Linked DNA regions of Homo sapiens: all the other regions are linked to region 2. The links come from fine-mapping of genetic effects on gene expression. A gene starts in region 2. Each other region holds a variant in brackets. All regions are shown on one strand. Distances are from middle to middle.

What was found. PIP is the estimated chance that this variant, and not a neighbour inherited with it, causes the effect. A credible set is the group of variants that fine-mapping cannot tell apart.
Region 1: its variant is the best candidate, but not a certain one, in a credible set for the expression of EXOSC7 in monocytes after triphosphate RNA (Kim-Hellmuth 2017, PIP 0.83).
Region 3: its variant is the best candidate, but not a certain one, in a credible set for the expression of EXOSC7 in whole blood (TOPMed, PIP 0.80).

The regions. Positions count from the first base shown.
Region 1 is chr3:44,904,391-44,909,390 of GRCh38, forward strand. It overlaps TGM4 (transglutaminase 4), which reads left to right. Exons shown (of 14, transcript NM_003241.4): 10 at 2,559-2,810. Among named protein-coding and RNA genes, the nearest start is that of TGM4, 32 kb to the left of the region's middle. The variant CAAAA/C (reference allele first, on the strand shown) is at 2,920.
Region 2 is chr3:44,970,498-44,981,288 of GRCh38, forward strand. It overlaps EXOSC7 (exosome component 7), which reads left to right and starts at 5,747. Exons shown (of 8, transcript NM_015004.4): 1 at 5,747-5,837. The coding sequence starts at 5,781. ZDHHC3 (zDHHC palmitoyltransferase 3) reads right to left here and starts at 5,677. Exons shown (of 7, transcript NM_001135179.2): 1 at 5,436-5,677. RefSeq lists an enhancer at 4,657-5,201 and silencers at 5,424-5,523, 5,644-5,713.
Region 3 is chr3:45,022,834-45,033,624 of GRCh38, forward strand. CLEC3B (C-type lectin domain family 3 member B) reads left to right here and starts at 3,470. Exons shown (of 3, transcript NM_003278.3): 1 at 3,470-3,638; 2 at 7,994-8,092. The coding sequence starts at 3,530. RefSeq lists enhancers at 3,850-4,351, 4,352-4,851. The variant T/G (reference allele first, on the strand shown) is at 6,103.

The DNA of each region.
Region 1 (5,000 bases), 69 kb before region 2:
GGACCAGGATTCAGCCCAAGTCAGACATAATGGGGATGCTTATCTCAGCTGGTTATGGGTTACCAACTTCTGGGTAAGACAGTGGCCCCTTGTAGCTGGAAGGACCTTGCCGGGGGACAAGGGTGTCTTTGTACAGCTGGGGAAGCAGAGGCATGGGGTTGGTCTGAGGTTACTTGGAAAATCTGTGGAATCAAGTTATCTTTATTTTAAATAGTGAGTCCTAGTACTAAAGACAAAGTCAGCCCAGTAAAGGGAAAATAGATTAGCTCAATAATTCTCAAATTTTAAAAAATTATTTGTTTATTTATTTTGAGACAGAATCTCACTGTTGCCCAGGCTGGAGTGCAGTGGTGTAATCTCGGTTCACTGCAACCTCTGCCTCCCAGGTTCAAGCAATTTTCCTGTCTCAGTCTCCTGAGTAGCTGGGACTACAGGTGCACACCACCATGCCTGGCTAATTTTTACATTTTTAGTAGAGACAGGACTTTGCCATATTGGTCAGGCTGGTCTCAAACTCCTGACCTCACGTGCTCCACCTCCCTTGGCCTCCCAAAGTGTTGGGATTACAGGCATGAGCCACTGTGCCTGGCCTTTATTTATTTATTTATTTAGAGATGGAGTTTCACTCTTGTTACCCAGGCTGGAGTGCAATGGTGCAATCTTGGCTCACTGCAACCTCTGCCTCCCAGGTTAAAGTGATTCTCCTGCCTCAGCCTCCCGAGTAGCTGGGATTACAGGCGCCTGCCACCATGCCTGACTAATTTTTTGTATTTTTAGTAGAGACAGGGTTTCACCCTGCTGGCCAGGCTTGTCTCAACCACCTGACCTCAGGTGATCTGCTTGTCTCGGCCTCCCAAAGTGCCGGGATTACAGGTGTGAACCACCGCACCCAGCCTCAAACTTTTTTTTTTTTGAAAAAAGCAGTCCAACTGCTCAGAAGGAAACTTCGTGTGCCACCTCATAATGTAAAGCAGAACTACTCCAGCTGAAGTGTGCCCAGGGACCAGCCGGCCCCTCCCTGACATCTCTGCCTCACTCCTGCAGCCCCTGAAGTAGATGTCTCTCAAGGTTCTTCTAGGAATAAGTCTTAGTTTGGCTGTGAGCCTCATCCCAAGGATAGCAAATTCATCTGCCCACAGGGCCAGAGAGTGAACAGGGCTGTCTACTTGGGAAGATGGGGACCTAGAGACATGAGCATGCAGATCCCCAAAGGCATTCAGGTTACAATTTAAACATACTTTGCGGGCTCCACCCATCAGTGTGAGACTCCTGATTCCTCCAGCTGCAATGTGAGCCCACATGGCCCTGAAGGCAAAAAAATGCTGTTAAAAGTGAAAACAGCCTCCACATTTCTCCAAAGATAAGGCATTGCCCTTATAATAGGGGGTGAGGGTGGTGGGAGGTGGCCCCCAGAGGTGGGAGGAGCAGGTGATATGCCCACACCCCCGCATACTCTGCAGGAAGATTCTCAGCAGGGCAGTATTGAGGGCTCTTTCCATCCAGGGAGTCTAAGTAGCATTTGCTGAGGTGGGACAGTAGCCATAGCAACCAGGCAGTGAGTAGCGCAGTGCCACTATCTGCCTGAGAGGCAGAGGAAGCCCTGTTCCCTGGCCAGAAAAGGGGCCTTAAAAGCCCACCTAACCTGCTCACCTTATAGATAAGGCCAGAGAGGGAGGGTGGGGATGCCCAGGTTCAGTCAACAAGTTAGGAGAAGAACCAGTATTAGATTAGGAGACCAGTTCTCCTGAGTCCTAGTCCTCCAATACACTGAATTCACAGGTTTGGCTGCCTTAAAGAGGCAAGGGAGAGGAGCCTGTGTGTTGAGGATTAAATAAAAATAGTGGAAGCAGAAAGCCCAATGCCCAGAATACAAGGGTATGTAAAAACCAAAGCTACTACTGAGGAACTATCAGTCAAGAGACTAATTCTCATTAAGTTGTCAATGACTAATAAGGGAACTCTCTATCCCCATGCTAGAAATAAAAAGACAGCTCTTAACAAAAATGAAAAATAAATAAATAAATAAATAGACAGCTCTTAGAATGGAAATGTTCTTATTAGCCCAGATCCATAGCAACAGCTTGCATTTGTTTTAGGCACAGGGCTAAGTACTTTGCCTGGATTATTTAATTTAATCTTCGCAATAGCCTTAGAAGGTAAGTGCTGTTTTTATTCCCAGTTTTCTAGGAAATGGAGCCACAGAGAGCTGAAATGCCTTGCACAAGGTCACATAGCTCCAAGGTGTGATGCCAGGAATCAGACCCAGATTGTGTGTCTCTGTGCTCTACTGGGGACTGATGTGCTGGGATGAGTTTAATAGGCAGCATGACTTCCTATTACTGGGACAGAGGATTCCTGACACTCTTCAAGTCAAAGCTGAGATGTGCCCCTCTTTTCAGAATAGTTAAGGATGGCCTAGGAAATGAGTACCCAGATGCTTCTTGGGCAAAATTTGCTTGCCAGTCCTGTTTGAGTTTGGGAATCATTGCTGCCACTGGGTCCAGGCTGGGTGGGCTGGGGAACCCCACTGAGAGTGACCACCCCTGGCTTCCCCTCAGGTGTCTTCTGCTGTGGGCCATCACCACTGACCGCCATCCGCAAAGGTGACATCTTTATTGTCTATGACACCAGATTCGTCTTCTCAGAAGTGAATGGTGACAGGCTCATCTGGTTGGTGAAGATGGTGAATGGGCAGGAGGAGTTACACGTAATTTCAATGGAGACCACAAGCATCGGGAAAAACATCAGCACCAAGGCAGTGGGCCAAGACAGGCGGAGAGATATCACCTATGAGTACAAGTATCCAGAAGGTGCTAGCATCACAGGGCTCCTTCTGACTCAGCCCCTGAGTCACCCAGAACATGAAAATAGTCAAGATTGGGGGTGGGCCTGGGCAACATGGTGAAACCCCATCCCTAC[CAAAA/C]AAAAAAAAAAAAAAAAAAATTAGCTGGGTGTGGTGGCATGTGCCTGTGGTCCCAGCTACTCAGGAGGCTAAGGTGGGAGGACTGCTTGAGCCAGGGAGGTTGAGGTTGCTGTGAGCTATGACCATGCCACTGCACTCCAGCCTGGGTGACAGAGCAAGACCCTGTCTCATACAAACAAAAAGACAAATCCTAATTGAGGCCTTTGCATTGTTTGACCAGCTCATTCACCTTGCTAAGACTGTCCGTTCTCCCCAGTGCCCAGTAAATTAGACATCTTCTCAGCCTGGCTTTCTGGCCCCTGCAGAGCTGGCCTCTGGCTCCCTTCCTGAGCTTAAGTTCATCCCCTAGCCATGCTGCCTGCTGTTACCTGAAAATGCTGGCTACTTTCACCCCTGGCCAAACCTCTGCTTATGCTTTCCCTAACTGAACTGTCTCCTTTGCAATCTCTACTATCCACAGGCTCATACGCTGCCTCTGTTCTTGATGTTCCTCAATCTGACAGATTTGTATTTCCCCTGTGGCCCATTGGCTGTGGTTCCTGTACCACGTGGTAAGGAAAGGAAGACAACTCCATATAGCATCCTCAAAGGGTGCAAGAGTCCAGACAGGGGCAAACTGAAGATGGGATGTGATTAAGAGGAAGGCAGGAAATCGTAAGGACTCATAGACGAGGGAGCAATTTGCTATGCTATGGGATGGCAGATGGTACCCATGCAGCTGGGGCTTTTCCCACCCTCCATTGCAGTATAGTTACAAGCAGGTCAGTTTGGACCCCTGGGTTGATTGTGAGCTTGTGTAAAACCTTGTACAAGGTAGGCCTGCAGTAAATATTTCTTCCATATAAATGAGGCAAGTGATTGATGGCTACCAAGGCAGCTCAGGACAAACTGGAGCTCTCCACTTTGAAGTCTCTTTGTGTTCAGAATGGACGTGGATGGAGAGCTTTGTAACCAAGCTCAGAAATTCCTGTCTTACAGCTGCTATCTCTGAAATAGAATCTTATCCTCAGGGTTGTGTTGAAAATGAGCAAACTTGATTAAAAGCAATTAGGTCAGGAGTGTTTTTTTTTGTTTTTGTTTTTTTTGTTTTTTGTTTTTTGTTTTTTTTGCAGGGTGACAGAAGTATCAGGGAGGGAGGGAAAGGATAGAGAGGGAGACCAGTGGTGTCTGTCAACTGCTACACTTGATGGTGTCCCTCAGGTCTCTGAGGCTCTGTTCACTCTTCCTCATTGTTTTTCCTTTCTGTCTCTCAGACTAGATAATCTTATGACCTGTCTTCAAGTTTGCTGATTTTCCTGCAAGCTCTAATCTGCTATTATTGTACTTTTCAACTCCAGAATTTATATTTGGTTCTTTTTTAAAAATAATTTTAATCTCTCTCGATATTCTCTATTTGGCAAGCCATTTGTTCTCACACTTTTTTTTTAGTTTTTTGAATATATTCAAAATAGCTAATTTAAAGTCTTTGTCTAGTAGGTTCAATGTCAGGGCTTCCTTAGGGACAGTTTTTATTGACTGTTTCCATGTTCCTACCCTGCCACCCCCACACCACCATGTATGGCCTATAGTTTGTTTGCATGTCTTGTAATTTTTTGTTAAAAATTGGACATTTTAAAGAACATAATATGGCAACTCTGGAAATCAGATCCTGTCCCCCATCCCAGGGTTGCTTTTGTGGTTGCTATTTGTTTAACAACTTCTCTGATATAATTCCAGAAATTCTATAATCTTTCTTGTCCATGACCACTGAATTCTCTGCTCAGTTTGCTGAATGGTCAGCTAATGATTAGATGGATATTGCTTTAAATTCCTTGAATCATTAAGACTCCTAGCCTTTGGCAAGGGGCTCTGTGTACAAGTTAGGGTACATTTCAATGCTCTGGCAGGCAATTTACAATTCTGCCTTCACTTCTTGCTTGAGCCTCAAGGTCAGTTAGAGGTGAGAGCCTTATCAGATCTTTCTCAGACCTTCTAGATTTCCAGGAATCTGTCTGAGCTTTTCAAAGCCCCCGTGGACATTTTGTCCCTCAGCTTTTCCTTTTAAGCTTTTTGGTCGGCTTCTTTTCCCCTCAACTCC
Region 2 (10,791 bases):
AGATCACGCTGATTGCTAGGGCCCCTTGCAGGGCTGAGATTCTATGAGTCCTCTGTTCTCAGGAGCAAATTCAACGTTTTCTTTGTTAATATCTTGGATTTTACATTTTTTTACCAAAAGCTTCACTTACCTCTTTTCCCGATTTGCTAATATTCAAAAAGAAGCCCACTAGTAACTATCTCTCTTAGCAATTTCCTGAGCATGTTTAGTTTTTTCAATCAAGTACAGCATAAAATTACGACTTCCTTTTGTTCATTTAATTTTTTTCAGAGTGGAAAAAGCACTAGCAAAATATATCAAGTATAATGAAGTGGTAAATGAAAGAAGTCTTAAAAACCCCAATTTAAACATGGTCATTTTTCAATATTCAAATATTTGCATATCCAGGATCCATTCTGAGTTTAAAAACCTGGCAAGATACTCACTTGAGGGCAAAATGAGACTTAGGTTAACTGACTTGTTCAAAGTCATAAAGCAAGTTAATAGCAAAGCCCAAATCTTTGGACTAAGATGCCCGGAAGTCTTTCTACCATAGATTGTTATCTTCCTAAACAACCTGTCTTTCTAGATTCTCTGCTACTATTTCTTGGTTTAGAAACATACACTTCACATACTGAAGACTTTACTGCAACAGGACTGTGGCCAGAACTGTACTTGTCTCATTAGGCTTACCTTGCTAAGGTAAGAAAGTGATCTCACTCAAAGGCATTGCATCTCCACTGACCTTGAATAGGAAATACATATTCATATCTTGCCAAGAGTTCAAGTGCCAAGTCAATACATACTACGAAGTCTATGGTTTGGAGGAGACTATGAAATGATGACATTTCCCATGCATTCCAAATGTATTAGGATGTATGACTGAATTAAGTGGGACATGCACCTGGAGCCTTCTCACCTTCACAGTTGACAGCCATGAATGAACTGGCCATTTGTCTCTGGAAATCTGCTTCCGAGGAGGAAAGCAAATGATTTTTTAAAATGCAAAACAGGAAGGAACTAAAGGCAGCATGGCATGAGCCTCATTTTTTCCCCAACAGGTCAACACTGAGACATCACCCCTCCACTTCTACTTGAGACTTTGTTACTTTCCATGGCTATCAGGGTGTGTGTGTTTAAATATTTCTACATTTGGTAAGCAGGATCTGTTACCCCCTTTTCTCAAATATGCCCTAATGAGACATAGGAAACATGCTGTCACTCTCCCAAAATGAAACACACATGAAGACTGTATAACTTTTCCTCTAATTAAGAGTAAGCTTTACCCATGTATTACTAGCAATTTTTCTATCACTGTAATCTCAAGTTACAATGTCTAGAAGACAGATGAAGACCTGCTGGCCAGACTATGACAGTATTCTTTACAGATATTCTTCATTTCTATCATTATTTTATTACTTATTTTATTATTTTTTAGCGATGGGGTCTATGTTGCCCAGGCTGGACTCAAACTCCGGGGCTTAAGGGATCCTCCCACCTCATTCTTTTAAGACAAGGTACAGGCGGGACAAATGCAAAGTGTTTAAAGGAAACAGATCTACAGGCAAAACGGTAACTGACTTTGTACATTTCAAGGGTGCTGGGCTAATGGTGAAAATGCAAAGGAAAAGGCCTAAAACATGGCCATGTCTGCTTAGGACTGGGAACAGAAGGTTTCCTGCTGGGCTTTTAAGAGCTCTCTATGGCTGGGCATGGTGGCTCATGCCCATAATCACAGCACTTTGGGAGGCCAAGGCAGGCAGATCTCTTGAGGCCAGGAGTTCGAGACCAGCCTGACCAACATGGCCAAACCCAGTCTCTACCAAAAATACAAAAATTAGCCGGGAGTGGTGGCACACACTTGTAATCCCAGCTACTCGGGAGGCTGAGGCACAAGAATTGCTTGAACCCAGGAGGCGGAGGTTGCGGTGAGCAGAGATTGTGCCACCGCACTCCAGCCTAGACAACAGAGCAAGACTCTGTCTCCAAAAAAGCTCTCTGCAACATCAGCACCACAGACTCAGCATTGCCCTGAAGCTCTTTTGTAACTGGCTTTTATTGGTTTAATTAACCAAGGATGGGTGGGACAGAGTTACTCCATCTCTGTCATGTTATTGTTGCCGGCTTGTGGCTAGCAGCAGCTCTTTACCTTTTGTATTTGATACCTGGCCTGCACAATTAGCACCTTATTATAGGCTGGCCTCTCTTCTAATTGCCACGTCTCAATTGAGCACTTTATTTTATTGTCTTGTTCATGCAGTAGTTCGAGGTCCTGGGCTCCCCCACTATAATAAATTCTAAACTACTTTTAGGCAGGTGTTGTGTTTTGAGTTTATCTCTTTATGCCCATAAGAACACCAGGGACTCACAGGCATGCAAACACACTGTCTGGAGTTTCTAGATATCTGAGTATGGCATACGGTTGGAATCTGGGTCTCCATGCATGCTACTCAACCCTAGTACCAGATCTATCAGCCATCTTTGCCATTGAGGGCTCTCTCCTTAGCTACTTGGAGTTAAGCTCTTATTCTGCTCATATATAACCTTTTACCTTGTTTAAAATATTGGGTTGCAACAGACACAGCAACATCCCATCAGCACCACATTCCATGTTCCTCTAGAAAAATGATTCAAGGGATATGAGTTTATGCTTGAACAGACTTCTTGCTTTTGGAATTAAGATTAACTATATAGTTCATAGGACAGTTACCAACGCCATAACAAAATTGGGATTTCCTTCACCAAATAATCTGGTGAATGTAATAAAACCTGGGGGGAGGCTGTGTAAGGTGATGGTTAGGAGTATGGGCAGGAGAGCTAGACTGCCTGGTCTCAAGTCCTGGTTCTGCCATTTACCAATGATGTAACCTGTGACCCTGGTTAAGGCATTTAACCTCTCTGTGCCTCATTTCCCAATCTGTAAAATAGGGATAAGAATACTTGCATCACAGGGCTGTTGCAAGGATTGAATCAGTTATTTTTTATTTTTATTTTTTTTTGAGATGGAGTTTCGCTCTTGTTGCCCAGGCTGGAGTGCAATGGCGTGATCTCAGCTCACTAAAACCTCCGCCTCCTGGGTTCAAGCGATTCTCCTGCCTCAGCCTCCCGAGTAGCTGGGATTGCAGGCATGCGCCACCATGCCCGGCTGATTTTGTATTTTTAGTAAAGATGGGGTTTCTCCATGTTGGTCAGGCTGGTCTCAAACTCCCAACCTCAGGTGATCCACCGGCCTCGGCCTCCCAAAGTGCTGGGATTACAGATGTCAGCCACCGCACCTAGCCTGGTTAATCTTTATAAAGTGCTTAGAACAATGCTTGGCATACAATAAGCACTATGTAAATTAGTGTTGAAAATTAGAGTATAAGGTTTTAGAATACACAAACCTACAGAATAGTATGCCCCAATTCATTTATTCATTCAATAAATGAATCTAATAGTGATGGAAAAACAAGACGGTTTAATACTGTGCCATCCTTGACTTCTTGATTTTTTTGGTTATCATATGTTCTTTGAATTACTTCAATACACTAAAAAAGAACTCAGAATTTATGGATTTTAAAGACGTCCAATGCACTATTACAGCAAAGGTGATAAAAATGTTCTGGCAGCATTTAAGCCGAATGATTAGTGAAGACTGTCATTGTTTTAGTAGACAATTTAAAAAGGAACATTCTACTGTTTACATCTCTCTTACCTACTTAGCCTAATATATAAGACATCGTTCATAACATTATTTAGCAAATACTGCAGACCCTTGTCCAGTATGGAATTCCCGTCAATTGTGAGGGGGGGACAGTTCAAATACATGTTCTATATTTTAAGACATTGGAAAATCTTTATATAAAGATAACTCCATGGTATCTGAACTCAGGCTTTTCTTCCTGTGTCTTTCTGATCTGTCCATTTGCTGTCACCTCTTAAATCCTCAGTCTCCTCAGATATCCTAGCTTCTAAAATCCCACTTCCAGGGTCTCTCCTTTCTGAGCAATCTCTAGCACATCTAGAAAATATCATTTATAACATCAGCAATCTCATGTTATCTTATCACAACAGAGCTCCTCACATAAAACCCAGCCGTCCAACCACACACAAACACATCTAAGTGCCACAACAGGTGGGGCACCTGTGCCTTCATTAGGGAGGAAATCCTTCCGGCTTCACCTCTTTCAGTTTCCCTGGAAGGCAAAGTCCAACCCTGCAAGCTGTCTTCCTTTTAGGTGCCCCTGTGGAGAATTACGTAGAGACATAAGAAACATCTAATGTCCAGTCTACGAAGAACTGATCATCAATTTTGGAGCTCAGCAGTTTAATGCTTAAGAATGTGAGCAAGCACTTCCTCTCTATAACCTTATCAGACGACCTCCCAATCCCACTGTGCCCACTGATGCGACCATCATAGCTCTAACCACCATGATCTGTGGTTATGTTGGCCCTGGAGCCTTCATCTGCCCAGGGAACTTCTCTGGGCATAGTATGTTTTACTTGTCTTGTGTTCTAAAGGTAGCACAAAGCCTATCTATAGTAGGCTCCCAATAGTTATCTGAAACTGTATTTGAACCCACTATCTGATAAATACCATTTTTTTTTTTTTTTGGCTGAGGGTCCTCAAAAATGGAACATCAGGAAAGTCATCAGAATTGCTTTAACCTGCCCTCCTTGCTTCAACTAATTTGGGTTAACTTTCTCCCATTTATCCACACGGCTCCTTTAAAACTTGCACCATACTTTGTCAGCCCCGCCTTAATGAGTTCCTTTGGTGACCCCAGCTTCACCTTGCAGATATCCTCTCCGGGTATCCAATGCCCATACTCCCACTCGGCCATCGCAAGGGGTTGGGGTTGGCTTTTTTTCGGGCAACTGCTCACAGCTCCCAGTAATCACTTCCATCAAGCCGGGGTTTCCAGTTCCCGCTAGGAAGCGTTGGGGACGTCCGGGCACTGCGCACCTCGCCAGTGCCGGTTACCAAGCGCCTCCTCCCCCGTCTGTGGGACAACGCTCTGGTAAGCACCCGAGGCAAGAGGTCCCAGCAAGGTAATGGGACAGCGTTCGGTCACAGAGAGTGAGCGAGCCAGCGAGAGATATTCCTGGGTGGAGGGGTGGGGACGCCTTAGGACTAGTGTCCCCCATTCCCGGACCCTTCCCACCAAGAACTACCTAGGGAGGGCTGCATCGCCTCTCCAGCCATCCTAGGGACTAGAGAAATGGAGGGGAGAAGAGCAGGGAAACAGCACCCCCGGGCCAATCACGACGTCCGCCCCTCCTTAGTCGGGGTCTCTCTCTCTCTCTCTCTCTCTCTCACACACACACACACACACACACACACACACACGCTCCTAAGTCAACTCCAGCTCTGAGCAACTACGCCGCACGCCTCTCCCACTGGGAGTCCCCCGGCCCGTGAGGCTCGCCTCACCCCAGCTTCTTCACCCCTACCCCAGTTTCCCTTCCCAACTGACCGTGAAGCCGGAGGCAGTTCCCCAGTCCCAGACCCCGGTGGGGCTCCCGCCGCCGCCGCCGCTGCCTTCCCCTGCAGTCCCCAACCCGGGACCCGGCCTCGGGCTTCGGCGATGGCTCCTCGGAACGAGGCGCCGCGGCTCTCTGGACTCGGCCAGACACCGGGCGGCGCGCAGGAGAAGCCCATCGAGCTCTCCCGGCAGTGGCGGCGGCCGCGGCTGCAGGAGCGGCCGCCGCGCAGGTTGATGACGCGCTGACGCGGGGCGGGGGGGGGTGGGACGTGGGGGCGCGGTCCAGAGGAGGGGACGCGCGCAGATGACGTGCGGCTCGTGGGGCAGCTCGGCAGCATGGCGTCCGTGACGCTGAGCGAGGCGGAGAAGGTGTACATCGTGCATGGCGTCCAGGTAGCTACAGCAGCGGCGTTGGGTCGGCCGCCGGGTTCAGCCTGGCCCTGCGGGTCGCGGCCTGCCCTGGGTTTGCCAGTGAGGAGGCAGCCGAGCTGCGGCGACTCTCCGTTTACCTTGTGATTAAACGGTTCTGCTGCCGGCGTTTGCAATTCAGAGCTGGCAACGTGGACGTTTTTAGGACTGTTAGCGCATTTGCAGTTTTGCGGGTCTATAAGATTCCGAACCCGGGCAGGAAGCTTGGGCAGTCTCGGAGGCCTTTTCTTAGTGAGAGAGCATCGGCCCCAGGGCCATCCATTCGGCGTTCGCGCACAGATCTTGTCCGAGCCTCAGTTTTCTCTTCGAGGAAATGGGAGTTTGGAGGTGGGCTTCTGGCCTGCTTTTCCTCACCTCGTGGTTAGGAGGGCGCATGCGAGGTGAACGCACTTTGAAAATACAAATTGCCGTACAAATAAAGGGGGAAGGGTTTTTAAAAAGCGGCTAGGACGCCTGTAATCCCAGCACTTTGGGAGGCCGAGGCGGGCGGATCACGAGGTCAAGAGACCGTCCTGACCAACATGGTGAAACCCCGTCTCTGCTAAAAATACAAAAAAATTTAGCTGGGCGTGGTGGCGCACGCCTGTAGTCCCAGCTACTCGGGAGACTGAGGCAGGAGAATCGCTTGAACCCGGGAGGCGGAGGTTGCAGTGAGCCGAGTCTCAAAAAAAAAGCGGCTAGGCAGCCGATAGCCTAAGTGCTGTTTCCATTTTGCCAATGAAGAACTAAGATCCCTAGGCAGCTATAACCTAATGTCCTCTGTGTTCTATATTAAATCCCTGGTTATGACCACTCCAGAACGAGGGTTGAAAAATGTTGGACCTGGTAACGAGCTACCCTGTATCCTCCTCCGGCTGTGTCTCCACTTGTTAACCTACGGTGTGGTCCTCCTATCAGAGTTCTTCATCCCATCCTTGGCAGAGTTCTGGCGACAGCTCCTACCTCTTTTCCTCATGCCTTTCCTCTGTCAGTACCAACTGCAAAGTCAGTGGTCCCGTGATGTAGCCATCGGATTGAAGCGGCCAGCTATCATTGAAGTCCCACAACGTGAGTTAAGGACATGTCCATTTAAAAATCGTGACCTGCCGTTATCTTCTGGGCCCTTTATATATGAAGAAATGCCAATATTTAGCATATTATGCCTGGATAATAAAGTCAGAACTCACAGTTGCATATTTTAGTTATAATTCAGGATTAACAACAGTGGGACATATGTGTGTATTACAGGGTAACATGTATGTTATTTGTGTGTGAGGGGGCATAAAAATGCCCAAAAGCAGTTAGATATGTCTTTCCCTGCTATATTTTTGTATACACTTTGTTCAGGTGATTTTTATCCTCAAAGTATTTTTTTAGGGACACATTACGGATAACCGTTTTCCTCTAAATTTAAAAACCTTTGGTCTTCTTTGTTACCGGAGCTTACCATGATGTAGTGACTCTGTCATGTGTCCTATTTTCTCTCAACATTTCATCCCTGAAAGTGGCACTGAGGCATGGATATATCTGTAACCTCAAGGTTAGAGCTTTCTCCCCAGCACCCTTAATTCCCACGGCAGTTCATTAGCTATCCAGCAGCAGAGTCCCACCATGGTCATTAGTTAATTTTATTTACCAACATATATCTAGCTCCTGGCATGTTATGTGGGAAACAGCAGGGATGCCAAAACATGGTTGTGAAATAAATGAAAGATAGGAGGGAGACAAACAGAGAGTAAAAGTGAATAAAATAAAAACAAAGGTAATGTAAGATCTATGCCAAGGAAGTGGTATAGTTAGTGGAGGTTGAAGTTAAAGTATACCAGGGGCCGGGCATTGTGGCTCACGCCTGTAATCCCAGCACTTTGAAAGGCTGAGATGGGAGGATTGCTTGAGCCTAGGAGTTTGAGACCAGCTTGGGCAACACAGTGAGAGCCCATCTCTAAAGAAATAATTTTTTTTTAATAAATAAAAAGAATTCCAGGGACTTGTAATGCTCTGAAGGCTTCCCTAAGGAGGTGGAATTGCTCCCCTAAATCCATGTCAAGGATTCCTCCTCTGTATCTTCAGGACTCAGTATTCATTCATTCAACACAGAACTGAGCTAGACTCAGGGGCTAGGAAGGAACCTGTCCTTATATAGCTCTCATGCTAGAAGGAAGATGCAGAAACTATAAATGTACTTGAGTGTTTATATATAAAATTGTACTGAATGCTATGAAGGAAAAAACGGACACGATCTAGACTGGGAGGTCAGAGGAGGCTTCCCTAAGGAAATAGCATTTGAACTGAGTTCTCAGCATGACTGAGAATTAAGTAGGCACCAGTGTTCCAGAAGGAAGGGGTGGTGAGTCTGTAAATCCTCAGGTGGAGGACATGTGGAGCCCAAGGGGTGGGCTGGGGGAAATGGTGGAAGATCAGCTTGCAGAGGTGGCCAGAAGCACGATCCTAGAGGTCTTAGAGGTTCAGTCATTCGCTCATCATGGATCTTGGAAGGCAATAGCCTGTTGACTTGTCTGTATGGGGGACCCTTAAGGCATAGCCAGTGTCTAGCACTTGGTAGGTTCTTAGTAGCATTGAATGGGTGATGTAAGCTTTAAAGGGGGAATGAGTTGGATGGTGTTTTTATTTTTTAAATTAAACCTCCCTCTCACCAGTACCATGGACATATTTGGGCACAGTTGTTGGTAAATGCTCAGCTCTGTGTATCACAGAGCCATGCAGAGTAATGGGCTTCAAATCAACGTCTTCATAAGGGCTTATTAATGTTGGCCCAAAATATGCCATATGTATAGAGGAGCAAAACACAATTTACACCATCCAAATAAAGGTCAGGATGCAGGTGAATGAGCCTACCATGGAATCTCAACTGATTCAGTTCTGAAATCTCCTAAACTTTTGTTGCGTTGGTTATAGAGTGCCGGCAGTGCACCTTAAGCAGTGCCTGCCTGAACTCCTGTTGCTTGTATAGTCCTAGTCATTTTGTGTTTTACTTTTCACCTTTGGTCCAGTAACGTCCATTTCAGCTTCTGATGTCACTTTCCCTTCAGCCTTTGGTTCTTTTACTATTTCAGGGAATATTTCATCTTGTTTTGGTGATAGTTAGAAGCAGTTGAAATTAACCTCACGATGTGTTGAGGATTCAGTTGCTAGTAATGGTAACCAACACATCGGCTCAAGCAAAACAGTATGGATTACAAGGCTGCAAGTGTTTCTCCAGGAATCCTAATCTCTGCTGGTTTTTTTTTTCCCCCTCTTTGCTTTGTTTTTGTCTCCCTACAGATTGGTTTTCTATTTCTTGGGCCAGTGGTAGAAAAAATGTGGTTCCTTCCCAGTTCCTCTGTAAAAGAGACCATTCCTTCTCGTTCAGTTCTGAACTCATGTTTCCAAGAGAAAGAAACTCTAGTTCTTTTAGGGGGTTGAGGGAAAGGATGGACAGAATAATTAGGCTCAAACATGGCCACTAGAGGATGTGTCACACTTGGGAGAAGTCAGTTTGTGAGAAGGGAGGGTGGATCATTTTAGTTATTGGCAGAAAATGGAACCCTCTTCAGGTAGTTCAGGAGACTTTTATGATGGGACTCTAGAGCAGTATGGGGGGGGTTTCAGGGAACCAATAAGAGATGTTGAGGAGCCCCAAGACAACTACTGGGAGTGGCTACTGCCCCTATTCCAAAGGGGCCAGGGGAGGAAACAGTATTACCACATTTCAGTGATAGCTGGAACTGTGGAGGAAGGGCTGCCCAACATAAGTCATAGTCTTCGATAGATGCAGGCACTATCAGAAATGTGGCCACTAGATTGGGGGTGAGGGGCACCCTCTGATCTGGTATCTTCCACTGGACAAACCCAACCAGAAGCCAGCAAAGGGAGTCTAGGTGATACAATTTGAGTCAACCTGGTGAACAGATCCCCTCTCCCAGGGGAGAACAGAGAATCAAAAAGGTGGATTAAATCGGTATTTTGATAAATAATTTGATTGGTTTCTGTTAGGTTCTCTTTCAGTCTTTGAAGGCTATATCCCATTCTTATTAGGTACATATTATAATTTTTATTTCATTGAATATTTACAACAGTTCTGAAGGTAAATGTTATCTCTATAGATGAGGAACTGAGCTCGGGCAGGTTGAGTCGCTTGTCAAGGTGACACAGTAATTGAGTGGTGGCACTGGGATTTAAATCCAGACCTGTCTGATTGCAAAGCCCATACTTGACTCTGAGGCCACCTTCCTGCTGCAGTGAAAGTCATTTCTTCCATTTCCTCAGTAGGGATCCAGAGATCAAGGCAGGAGAGAATCTTTGCTTCCTCTACCTCCTTTTCTTTCCCCCTTTCTCTAAAAGCTTGTGGGGAAACTGGAAGGGAAAGAGAAAGTTCTAATTGACACCTCCCACTCCCCAGTTTTTCTAGAGCTTAAATAGTATATGGCATATACTGCTGTATTGTTTTGGTTGCATTTTTCCCACATTGAGTATAAGTTCCTTTAGAACCCTATATTGCATTTCTTTGTATAGCTTTTGTCTTACTAGTATCATAAACGATTTACTCTGCCCATACCATGCAGAACTTGGAGCAGACTTCAGAATTTTTAGAATCTAGGATTTATCCTCTTTTCTGGCTTACTGGGCTAGATGTGTGTTTTCCTCATCCATGAGAAGCCATTGCTAACCTCCCTCTTAGCCCAGGGATTCTGAAGCCTTGAAGTGCATTTTACTCACCTACAAAATACAGATTCTGAGGCTTTACCCCAACATTCTGAATCAGACTCTCTGGGGCTGGGGCCTGAGAATGGACATTATCATAAAGTGTTGGGAAATTTGGGGGCAGCCACCAGACATTGGCCCATGGGTAAGCCACTGACCAGAGATAAAGAAATCTCTGCTCTCTCCTGCTGAAGTCATATGGTTTCCTGCCTCTTTTTGAATGAGGCTTTGGAGTCAG
Region 3 (10,791 bases), 52 kb after region 2:
TGTACACTACTCTGGACTCTATAAAACACTGCACACATAAGCTGCATTACATTTTTTTAAAAAATGGTTTTCTTTTTTAATAATAAATTAACCTGAGCTTACCATAACTTTTTTTACTTTGTAAACTTTTGAACTCATTTAACTTTTTTACTTTTATAACATTTAGCTTAAAACACAAACACATTGAACAGTTGTACAAAATTATTTTCTCTATATCCTTATTCTATAGGCTTTTTCTAGTTATTATTACTTTTTTACTTTTTAAACTTTTTGTTAAAAACTAAGACACAAACGCACATTAGCCCATGCCTACACAGGGTCAGGATTATCAGTGTCACTGTCTTCCACCTCCACCTCTTGTCTCAGTGGGAGGTCTTCAGGGACAGTCACACACATGGAGCTATCATATCCTATGATAACAGTGCCTTCTTCTGGAAAACCTCCTGATGGACCCACCTTAGGCTGTTTCACAGTTAACTTTTTTAAAAAAAAAGTAGAAAGAGTACACTCTAAAATAATGATAAAAAGTATAGCACAGTAAATACATAAACCAGTGACACGGTCATTTATTATCATCGTATTAGTTCATTCTCGCACTGCTATAAAGAACTGCCCAAGAATGGGTAATTTAGAAAGGAAAGAGGTTTAATTGACTCACAGTTCTGCATGGCTGGGGAGGCCTCAGGAAACTAATAATCATGGTGGAAGGCAAAGGAGAAGCAGACACCTTCTTCACATGGCAGCAGGACAGAGTGAGTACAAGCAGGGGAAATGCCAGATGCTTATAAAACCATCAGATCTCATGAGACTCACTATCACGAGAACAGCATGGGAGAAACTTGCCCCCATGGTTCAATGACCTCCACCTGGTCTTTCCCATGACACATGGGGATTATGAGGATTACAATTCAAGGTGAGATTTTGGGTGGGGACACAGCCAAGCCATATCATTCCACCCCGGCCCCTCCCAAATCTCATGCTCTCACATTTCAAAGCACAATCATGTGGGGCAGAATGATATGGTTTGACTATGTTCTCACCCAAATTCTTATCTTGAATTGTAATCCTCATAATGCCCATGTGTCAAGGGAGAGACCAGGTGGAGGTCATTGAACGATGGGGGTGGTTTCCCCCATGCTGTCCTTGTGATAGTGAGTTCTCATGAGATCTTATGGTTTTATAAGTGTTTGGCAGTTCCTCCTGCATTCATTGTACCTCCTGCCTCCTTGCGAAGAAGGTGTTTGTTTCCCCTTCACCTTCTGCCACAATTGTAAATTTCCTGAGGCCTCCCCAGCCGTGTGGAACTGTAAATCAATTAAACCTCTTTCCTTTCTAAATTACCCAGTCTTGGGCAGTTCTTTAGAGTAGTGTGAAAACGGACTAACAAAATCAAGTATTATGTGCTAACATGACCTTATATGCTCTACTTCGATATGACTGGCAGTAAATTTGTTTACACCAGCATCACCACAAACTTGGGAATAATGAGTTGCACTATGACTTTACAACCCTTTGTGACATCACTAGGTGTTAGGAATTTTTCTGCCCCATTATAATCTTATGGAAGCATATCACATATGTGGCCTGTTGTTGACTGAACTGTCATGATGCAGCATGTGACAACACATCACTGCCGTGTGCTCCTCAGACCCCATCAGATTTCTCTGGTTGTCCCAACTGCATCCTTGAGAATGGAGGGTCCAGTCCAGAATCACATATTGCATTTAGTTCTGTGTCTTCAGTCTCCTTCAGCCTGAAACACTTCCTCAGCCAGGAGCTTTGAAAATTACTGGCAGTCATTTTGCAGAATGCTCCTCCATTTGGGATTGTCTGATGTCTCTCTGGCCGGAGTCCTATGGAGTGATGCCACATTCTCACTGCAGCCCCCCAGGTGCTGCAAGCTTTTTATTGGCCCTGTTGATGTTTACTTTGGTCACAGATGAGGTGATGTCTGCCAGCCTTCTTCACCATGAAGTTGCTCTTTTTCTCTCTGGAATGGATAAGTGTTTTGTGGGCAGATACTTTGAGGCTATGTAAACATCCCATTGAAGAACATCAGACTTTCAATGCGTTCCCTTACTTACTTATATCTGTGTGCACTGGTGGTTTCCCATCTGTTACTGTCACTATGTTGGTGCTCAAATTGTCCCTGATTCTGACCACTGAAGGCTCCTTCAAGCTGGCTCTGTGTCCTACTGACGTGTTCCCATTATTCATTAAGCACTTCCTTGTTTTCTGGCAAAACAACAAGTTCCGGGCTCATTTTCTGCACCCCACTCCTACTTCCCAGTGCTAGAATCAGCCGTTTCTGCAAGGTGCTCTGGTTCCTTTAGTGGAAAGTCATATTCAGAAGCCAGTATTCAGGTGCTAGGAGTGCTCCAGGCTATGCGGGGCTGGCTGCTCCAGGCCCCCCAGTGACTGTGGGGACTAGACACACACACATTTCCATCTATATATATGGACTTATCTTTATGTATTCAAGGCCACAAGGGTACACTGATCATTCCGATTTTAATCCCACACAACAGGATTCATTCCAGTTTTCTCTCCATATACATAACTTCCTTCTCTGACAATAGGAAACCTAACTCCCACTGTCTTCAGTAGATTTATTTGATCAGTATCCCTGTGTGTAACCAATCTCCCGTCTCTGCCACCAGCCTCTCTCCCACATGGATCCCCTCCTTGCCTCACTTGGACTCCAGCACTCCAGGCAGGGCCTTTGCTTTCCCCAGGATGCTCCCTCCACCCTGCTGGGCTCCCACACCCCACACCAGTCCACCCCTTGAGGGCACATTCTCCCCACATCCTCTCTGGTACCTCTGGGGCACGATGGCTTCTCCCTCCGCCACCTTTGCTATGCCCCACTTTGTGGCTTTAGGACAGGACTCAGGAGAAAGGGAAGACAAGAAGGGAAGGAATCCCTTGGATTTTTTAACCAAAAAATGCATCAAGTACATGGAGACAGAGCCACAAAATAATCATAACAAATATTCTAAACCAATCAGACAGCCAGCCCCAGATCACCCTATAAGGGGGCATTGCTACCCCGTGACAGCTGGGTAGCCTGGGCAAATTCCCTAACCTCACCGAGCCTCAATTTCCTCAATGGTAAAATGGGGAAAGGACAGTGCTTCCCTCGTGGTTTGGGTGTGAAGCTTCTGTGAGTTAATGTTAGTGAACAGCCAGCCTCAGCCCCTACCCAAGGTAGCTGCTCCGCAGATGTGATGACAACCACCGTGTGTTTCTCAGAATCCTAGGAAATAAGGGCTTCTTTCTAGAAGGCAGGGCCAGGATGCTGCGTGGGTGTTCCCTGGCAGAGAGGCTCTGTGGCCCTCAGGACTTCATCCTTCTGCAGGCTTGTGTGTTTGTTTTATTTTTTTGGCACGCCTGCAGCCAAGTTGGGGAGGGTTTCCTGGACAGAGGTCCTTTGGCTGCTGCCTTAAGACGTGCAGCCTGGGCCGTGGCTGTCACTGCGTTCGGACCCAGACCCGCTGCAGGCAGCAGCAGCCCCCGCCCGCGCAGCAGCATGGAGCTCTGGGGGGCCTACCTCCTCCTCTGCCTCTTCTCCCTCCTGACCCAGGTCACCACCGAGCCACCAACCCAGAAGCCCAAGAAGATTGTAAATGCCAAGAAAGGTAAGGAGGGGGACAGAGCCCTGTGCCATCTTCCAGGGAGCAGGTCCCCCTCTCCTTAGTGTGTCCTCATGCTCCTTTCCTTCATTTTCCTCCTTTTGAGTCATCTAGGGAACTTGAGTAAAGTGGGCTTTGGGGCTTGGGGGAGTTCTCTCATAGCAGAGTTGGTTGTCAGAATCATAAGAATCCCTGACCCTTAGAGTTGGGAAGAACCTTCCAGATCATCCAAACTGATCTTTGCTCTTCTCTCCTCCCCTCATCCCCAATATTTTAAAGAAACCAAACCTTTGGCCTGGGAGTCTGGCAGCGCTCAGCCCTTACCAGGGAGAGCTGCACAGGCTGGGCTTTGGAGTCTTCCAACCTGTTTTCTCAACTGTAAAATGGGGACAGTGGTATTTGTTCAAAGACTTCTCATGAAGATTTTATGATACAAAATATATAAAGGCACCTCACTTGTTGCTTGATGCACAGGGAAAAGAAAAAGAAGAAGAAATGAATTCTCATTTCTGTAGCATATCACAGCCTTCAGGAAATAAATGTAACTCAGACTAGTCCACCAGAAGCAGCTTTGCTCTGCTTTGTAGCCTCTGGGGATTGGGGTGTCCCTCGGTTGCTTTGGCTACAGCAAGACTTGCCCTTGCAGCCCCGCCTGCAGTGAGGTCACCCCAGGCTGTGTTGAGACAACATCAGTGGAATGTCATGGCAATGGACGGGGCTGTCACCCCCCCAGGGAGCAGAGGCTAGAAGAGAGTCCAAGGGGATGAGGGTGGGGACTGAGGCAGAGAAACAAGCAGCTAGGACCAAGGGCACAGAAAAGGAAAGAAGGGGCTGTGGGGGCCTCCCTTAGGCCCTCCCGGGGCTCTTCATAAATGGACAGTTGCCCACTGGCCAGGAACTAGTGCAGTGCATAAAGGGACATCGGGGCCATGGGGCCTCACAACACTGTGACAAAGAATGGGGCAAATCTGGCTGCTGATAAAAAAATCATCTTCAAGATTCAGTTTACAAAGTGAAAAAAGAAACATTCAAAAGAGAATGAGTATGATGCTGACATTTGCTTTGAAAAAGGGATTTATATAATAATACATTTTTACTTGTATGTGCATAAGTTCTTTCTGGAAGGATCCACAAGAGTGAGTAACAGTGATTACCTCTGGGAAGAAAAACCAGGGGCTGGGCGCAGTCTCAACTGGGAAAGAAACCAGCTTTTTGAACTGTTTGGATTTTAAAAAATTATGTGTGTATATTACCTTCCACAAAATGTTCATTTAAAAAGAGAAGACAATACCGTGCATAGTTACGTCTATGAGCATTAGCCAAAATCGCCACCAAGGGAGAGCCTTTGTAAAAGATGCAGCTCCAAAGGCAAATCATAGAATTTTTGAATGTGGAAAACCATCGCCAGCTTCTCAAGTTTACCAAAGATTCAGTATTAATATAATTATGTAAATCTTTTTAAACTCATGTTAAAAAAAAAAGGGTCAGAGCACGTGATGCCTTGGTTCTCTCCAGCTGTCACACTTGAACCCTGGCCCTATGTGGTCTCCATAGAAGGGGCCCCTGGAGTTCCAGGGCTACAGGCCAACAGAACAGCCACCCAGGCCCTGCCTCTCGCTGAAACCCATGGCAGTCTCCCGCCCACCAACATGGCAGGCACTTATAGAGCTCTTTCTCCACGTAGGCACCAGTCTATATGCTGGACACACAGCAGAGAAACACCGTCTCTGCTCTTAAGACATGAACCATGGTGGTTCTCACTCAGGCATCAACATCATCTGGGAGATACATTAGAATCCAGGTGCCTTGGCCAGGCGTGGTGGCTCAAGCCTGTAATCTCAGCACTTTAGGAGGCCAAGGTGGGAGGATCGCTTGAGGCCAGGAGTTCAAGACAAGTCTGGCCAACATGGTGAAACCCTGTCTCTACTAAAAATACAAAAATTAGCTGAGTGTGATGGTGTACACGTGTAGTCCCAGCTACTCAGGAGGCTGAGGCAGGAGAATTGCTTGAACCTGGGAGGTGGAGGTTGCAATGGGCCGAGATTGCACCACTGCACTCCAGCCTGGGTGACAGAGTAAGTGAGACTCCGTCTCAAAAATAAATCAATAAATAAAATAAAAGTTAAGAATTCAGGTGCTTGGGCCCCACCCCTGGAAATGCTGGTTTAGGGATCTTGGTGAGTTTAGCATCTGCCTTTTCCACAGGTCTTCAGGGATTCCTAGGAGCAGCCAGGAATGAGAATCTCAGGGGCAATCTAGTTGCAGGGCTGGTGCCCAAAAGTACGGGAGAAAGTCCAAAGAAGGGACGGTCATGCCAGAGGAGACCAGTTGGTGCCAGGGCCAAGAGGGGGAGAGCAAGTGGCAGGACTGGCAAAGGAAGGGAATGCCAGCATATGCTAAGTCCTTGTCCTGGCCCTCAGGGTGGGTGAGAAGCGGGGAGCCTAGAGTACTTCTGGGAGCTCATCTGTTC[T/G]TGGGGCCACATGGTCACACCTGGCAGGGAAGCTCCGGAGGGAAGGATGGCCTCATAGGAGTCACAGGCCTTTAGAACAGGGAACTGGGGGAACCTGGAGGGCATCCATTCTAACATCACGCAGAAGGAACCTGAGGCTCAGAGAGTGGGCCAGCACAAAGGCCTCCTGACTCTGCCCAGGGCCGTAGAGACACCTACTCCCACAGCTTCCTCAGGTGGAGCTAATGAGAGTAGCTTCCTGTACCTTGGACAGTCCCTGGAGGAAACTTTGCACATATGGGCACCTTGGTGCAAATTACAAAAGGTACCTCCTCTAAACTGACAAATTATAGAAAGGCATCTCTTTTTCTGGTCTGACCCACTCTAGCCAGGGCAAGGCTTAGGAGACAAATGGGCCTTCATGTGTCCCTCAGCAGAATGCCCTTCTTCAGTGCCCCCTTGCACAGCCTCACATGGCACCCTATGCTGGTACATCACGTGACTGGGTACAGTGCTGCTATAACTGGTGGAGGCAGTCTCTGTGTGAGGCACACATGACCTCAGGCTGGTTTGCCAGCCCCAAACTCTCCCTTTTTTTGCCTTGCTCATCAGGGTGTTTTTGCTCCAGTTTGGTAAGTTACATCGCTAATTTCTATATACACAACCATGTGTCTTGCCTGTGATTCTTCTGCAAAGGCACCTTATGGGTGGACGAAGGCTCTGATCTCACTCTTTGTGAGTGTGGAATGTATGCAGACACAGCCAAATGGACCATTAAAGTGTTTCCCCACCCACTTCCCCAAGCTGAGTGCAGCCTTTCCTGAAGCCCTGGTGTTTCAGAAAGACCAGGGTCCGCCCCAGGAGCTCTAAACTTACACACACATAGAAATATGCTTCCCGGCACCCTCAACTTACACACACATAGAAATATGCTTCCCCGCCTTCCCCTGCTGACTCTTACATGACTGGCTGCCAGCAGGACAGCTCCTGTTAGGAATCCGTTTGTGTGCCATGGGGAAGGTGGGGAAGAGCATGGCTTCAGAGCCATGTGCACCTGGGTTCCAGGCCAGCCCTGCCAGCTGGGGCTCTGCCATCCTCGGCCAGTTGGTTTAGGGCAGCCTGGGTTTCCTCATGGTGAAATGCTGGTGGTACAGAATGACACGTTACCTGTGTCATAGGGTTGATTATGAGCATCACATGGGGTGACATGTAGAACGGCTTAGCCCAGAGCCTGGCCTCCTCTGTAAGAGTGGAAAACCTGGGTTCCTTCTGCCCTCATCTTATTAGTAGCTGTGATGGGCACACACTCAGCCAAGCACTGAGGTAGGCAGCTCTGCGTTTCAGTTCTCTTAGTCTTCTCCAGAGTCCTAGGAGGTGGGGCTGTCATCATCCACTTCATACATGAGGGAACCAAATCCAGAGAGGCTGAGCAGCTCGCCCAGGCCACCCGTGTCTGTGGCACCTCCAAGCCCTGCATATGCGTGCCCCAGGCTGGAGTGCCTGCTGGTCTGTGTCGCATTCCTCCAGCCTGGGGAAGTGAACCTGGGGGCTTCTTGAGGGCTCCTGCTGTGCTTCCTGTGCTGTTCTTCCCTGGAGCTGAAAAGGTAGCTGGGTGGTGGGGGATCACTGAAGCCTGTGCCTACACCCTCACCCCTGCCTCTGCTAATCCCAGCCCCATCTGATCCCCAGCAACAATCCCAAACAAATGCAGCACAGGAGCAAGTGAAGGATGGGCCCCCTGGCAGAAGTCACAAGTGGTTAATTAGACTACCACCAGCAAGGATAGAGAGAGAGAAAGTTTCCCAAGATATCAAGGTTGAGGGGAGTCTTTTCCTCTCATCCCTCTGCAGCTAAGGTAGGATCCTTCCTGCTCAGTCCCTGCCCCACCCTGACATATTTCCTCCTGCTTCAGATGTTGTGAACACAAAGATGTTTGAGGAGCTCAAGAGCCGTCTGGACACCCTGGCCCAGGAGGTGGCCCTGCTGAAGGAGCAGCAGGCCCTGCAGACGGGTGAGTGCAGGCAGTAGCCTCTCTGGGCAGGAGCGTCTGAGAGAAGGGCCCAGGCCAGCAGCCAGCAATGCTCTTCTCGCCTCCGTTCAGCATCAGGGTCCTGGCTCCATTAGTCCAGGCCTATGGGTGAAGGCACCAGGTTCAGGGAGCCCCACCTCTTTCTCTTGGGGAGATCCCCTGACACGTGTCTGCAAAACTCACCTGGATGTGTACGGCCAAATCTCTGGCCACAGCTGGGTGGTGTGGAAGTGGGGATGTCCCAAGAGGACAAAAAATTCTCCAACAAGAATCCACTACTGCCCACCAGAAGTGACCCTGGAGCGCTCGATGGGGCAGAGGTAGTGGCCCACCCTAGCAAAGCTCCCAGGAGCCCCTCACTCAGCTGGCCTCTGCAGCCCCAGAGAGCTCCACACTCCTGTGTGTCAGCAGCTTTGCTGACCCTGTCTCTCTTAATCGTAACTCTGCTGAGGTGGGATTTGTCAGCTCCATTTTAAAGATGAGCTGTCAGCTCCATGAAATGTCAGCTCCATTTTAAAGATGTGTCAGCAGCAACTGAGGCATAGACAGGTCCTGAACCTGGCTCATACTCACCTCGTTGGTTAGTTGACTCGTGGAAGAGCAAGAGTTGAATGGAGGCAGGCTGCCCAGTGCCAAGCTGGGCCTTGGTGTTCCTGGCTCTGCACTAGCCAGCTGAGGGAGGGTGCACAGAATCACCAAGAACAGGGCCCAGGCGCATGGTAAGGTCATGCCCTCTGGCCAGCATACCTGGCAGCCTATTGTTTCTCACTCCCCATGTTCCTGTCATATAGTCTGCATTTTCCACATACCTCCGATTTACCTACCTTTATATGACCTCACCTTCCATTCTATGGAGAACACAGACTCACAATACTGATGACTATTTACATGTGAGCCCACTACATTCTGGCACTGTTCTTGATGCTTGATGCAGACTCACAATACTGATGACTATTTACATGTGAGCCCACTACATTCTGGCACTGTTCTTGATGCTTGATGCACGTTAACTCATTCACAGCACACCCGTGCAGTGGTCCTGTTACTACATCCTCACCCTTATTTTCCACCGAGAAGGACCTTGTGACAGCCGAAAGGAGCAGAGCCTCACTTAGCTCTGCTATGCTGCCCCTCGAGTTATCAGCTGGGAAATCACCTTGACTCCTCAGCAAATCTATAAACCACCCTGTGTCCACAGCCACTCTCTTACCTGTTGCTTTTGTGACCAAGGCCCATCCATCTGCAAGGCCTTCCCTTCCCCGCCTGCCTCCTCAGAAACCCCCAACAGCCTTCTCACCGGATGGTTTTACACACTCCCTCCCATTCATATGCTTTCCTTCAGCATTCACACTGCCATCCTTCTGCACTCCCACCACAGGGCCTTTGCATGTGCTGTTTGGGCAACCTGAATTGCTCCCCCAAGATCCACCTAATAAATGCCTCCAGCATTATCTTCTCAGGAGTCACTAATCCCTCATCTCAATCAGCTCCTCAGTTATAAGCTCTCCCAGAACAGTGTCCTTTCTTTTATCACACTGACTGCAGTCTGTAATGATACACTCATTTCCTGATTTGTGTCTGCTGCCTCCACTAGACTATAGTAAGCCCTGAGAACACAAGGGCCATGTTTGCTTTTCATTGCCCTTGTCTCTTCCACTACCCTGCCCAGCATAGTGCCTGCCACATAGCAACACTCAGTCAATCTCTGTTGAAGGAAGGACAAACATGTAACTTTGGACAGCTTGCTTGGCATGGCAGGTAGGAAGAGAGTGCTCGAGAAAGGGAGCATCTCCAGAGGTGTTTTTGACTTCATGTAATAGGAAACCTATCAGTGGCTTAAACAAAAAGTAAGTCTGCAAGTAGGTAGTTATAAGTTTTTGTTCAGAAGTTTCACCTCATGGTCTTCAGATGGCTGCCCCAACTCCAGGCATCATGAGTGCATTCAAGGCAAGAAGGAGGAAGAGTAGCCCAACCACATCTGTCTCATTTATAGGGAACGTAGTCTTCCACTTCCATCTCATTGACAAGAAATCTATCATATGGCCACCTGCAGCTTTAAGAACATCTGAGAATGCAAGAATGTAGCTTTTCCAGCCTCTATAGTGGAGGTGGACAAGAGAGAAGGGATTTGGAGGCAACAGTGCCTGGCACAGCGGGTATGTTTAGAATGAGCCCAGTGCCACTCTGAGCCTCAGTTTCCTCATCTGTAAGGTAGGCAGGGTAAACTCTAAGGTCTCTCTCATGTCTAAGCTCTGTGCTGTGCAAAGTCAATGTAACCCAGGCATCAACTGCCACCTGGGGTGAGGTAATGAGGTGGGGACCTCCCTGAAAAAAGTTCATGACATATGGAGGCCCAAAGCATGACATATGAAAGCCCCCATGTCTGCTGATTTCTAGGAAGCTGCTGGGCTTCTTGGGGCCTTCTCCTGTTCATTGTCCTCACAACCCAAAGATCACCTTTTCAATAAACCCACCCAAAGCATTGCAGAGCTCTGTTGACCTAACCAGAGTTGAAGGAATCAGGGGGCAACCTTTCCCTCCTCCAACCAGCATACACATGGGAGGTTCCCACCTGGTACATCTCTGCCAGGCACAAGGAGGCAGAGGTGATGCAGCCAGGGCCCTGCTCCCTGGGAACCTCAATATATTCATGGAATCACTTGAGCCCTTGAAAGCTGTGT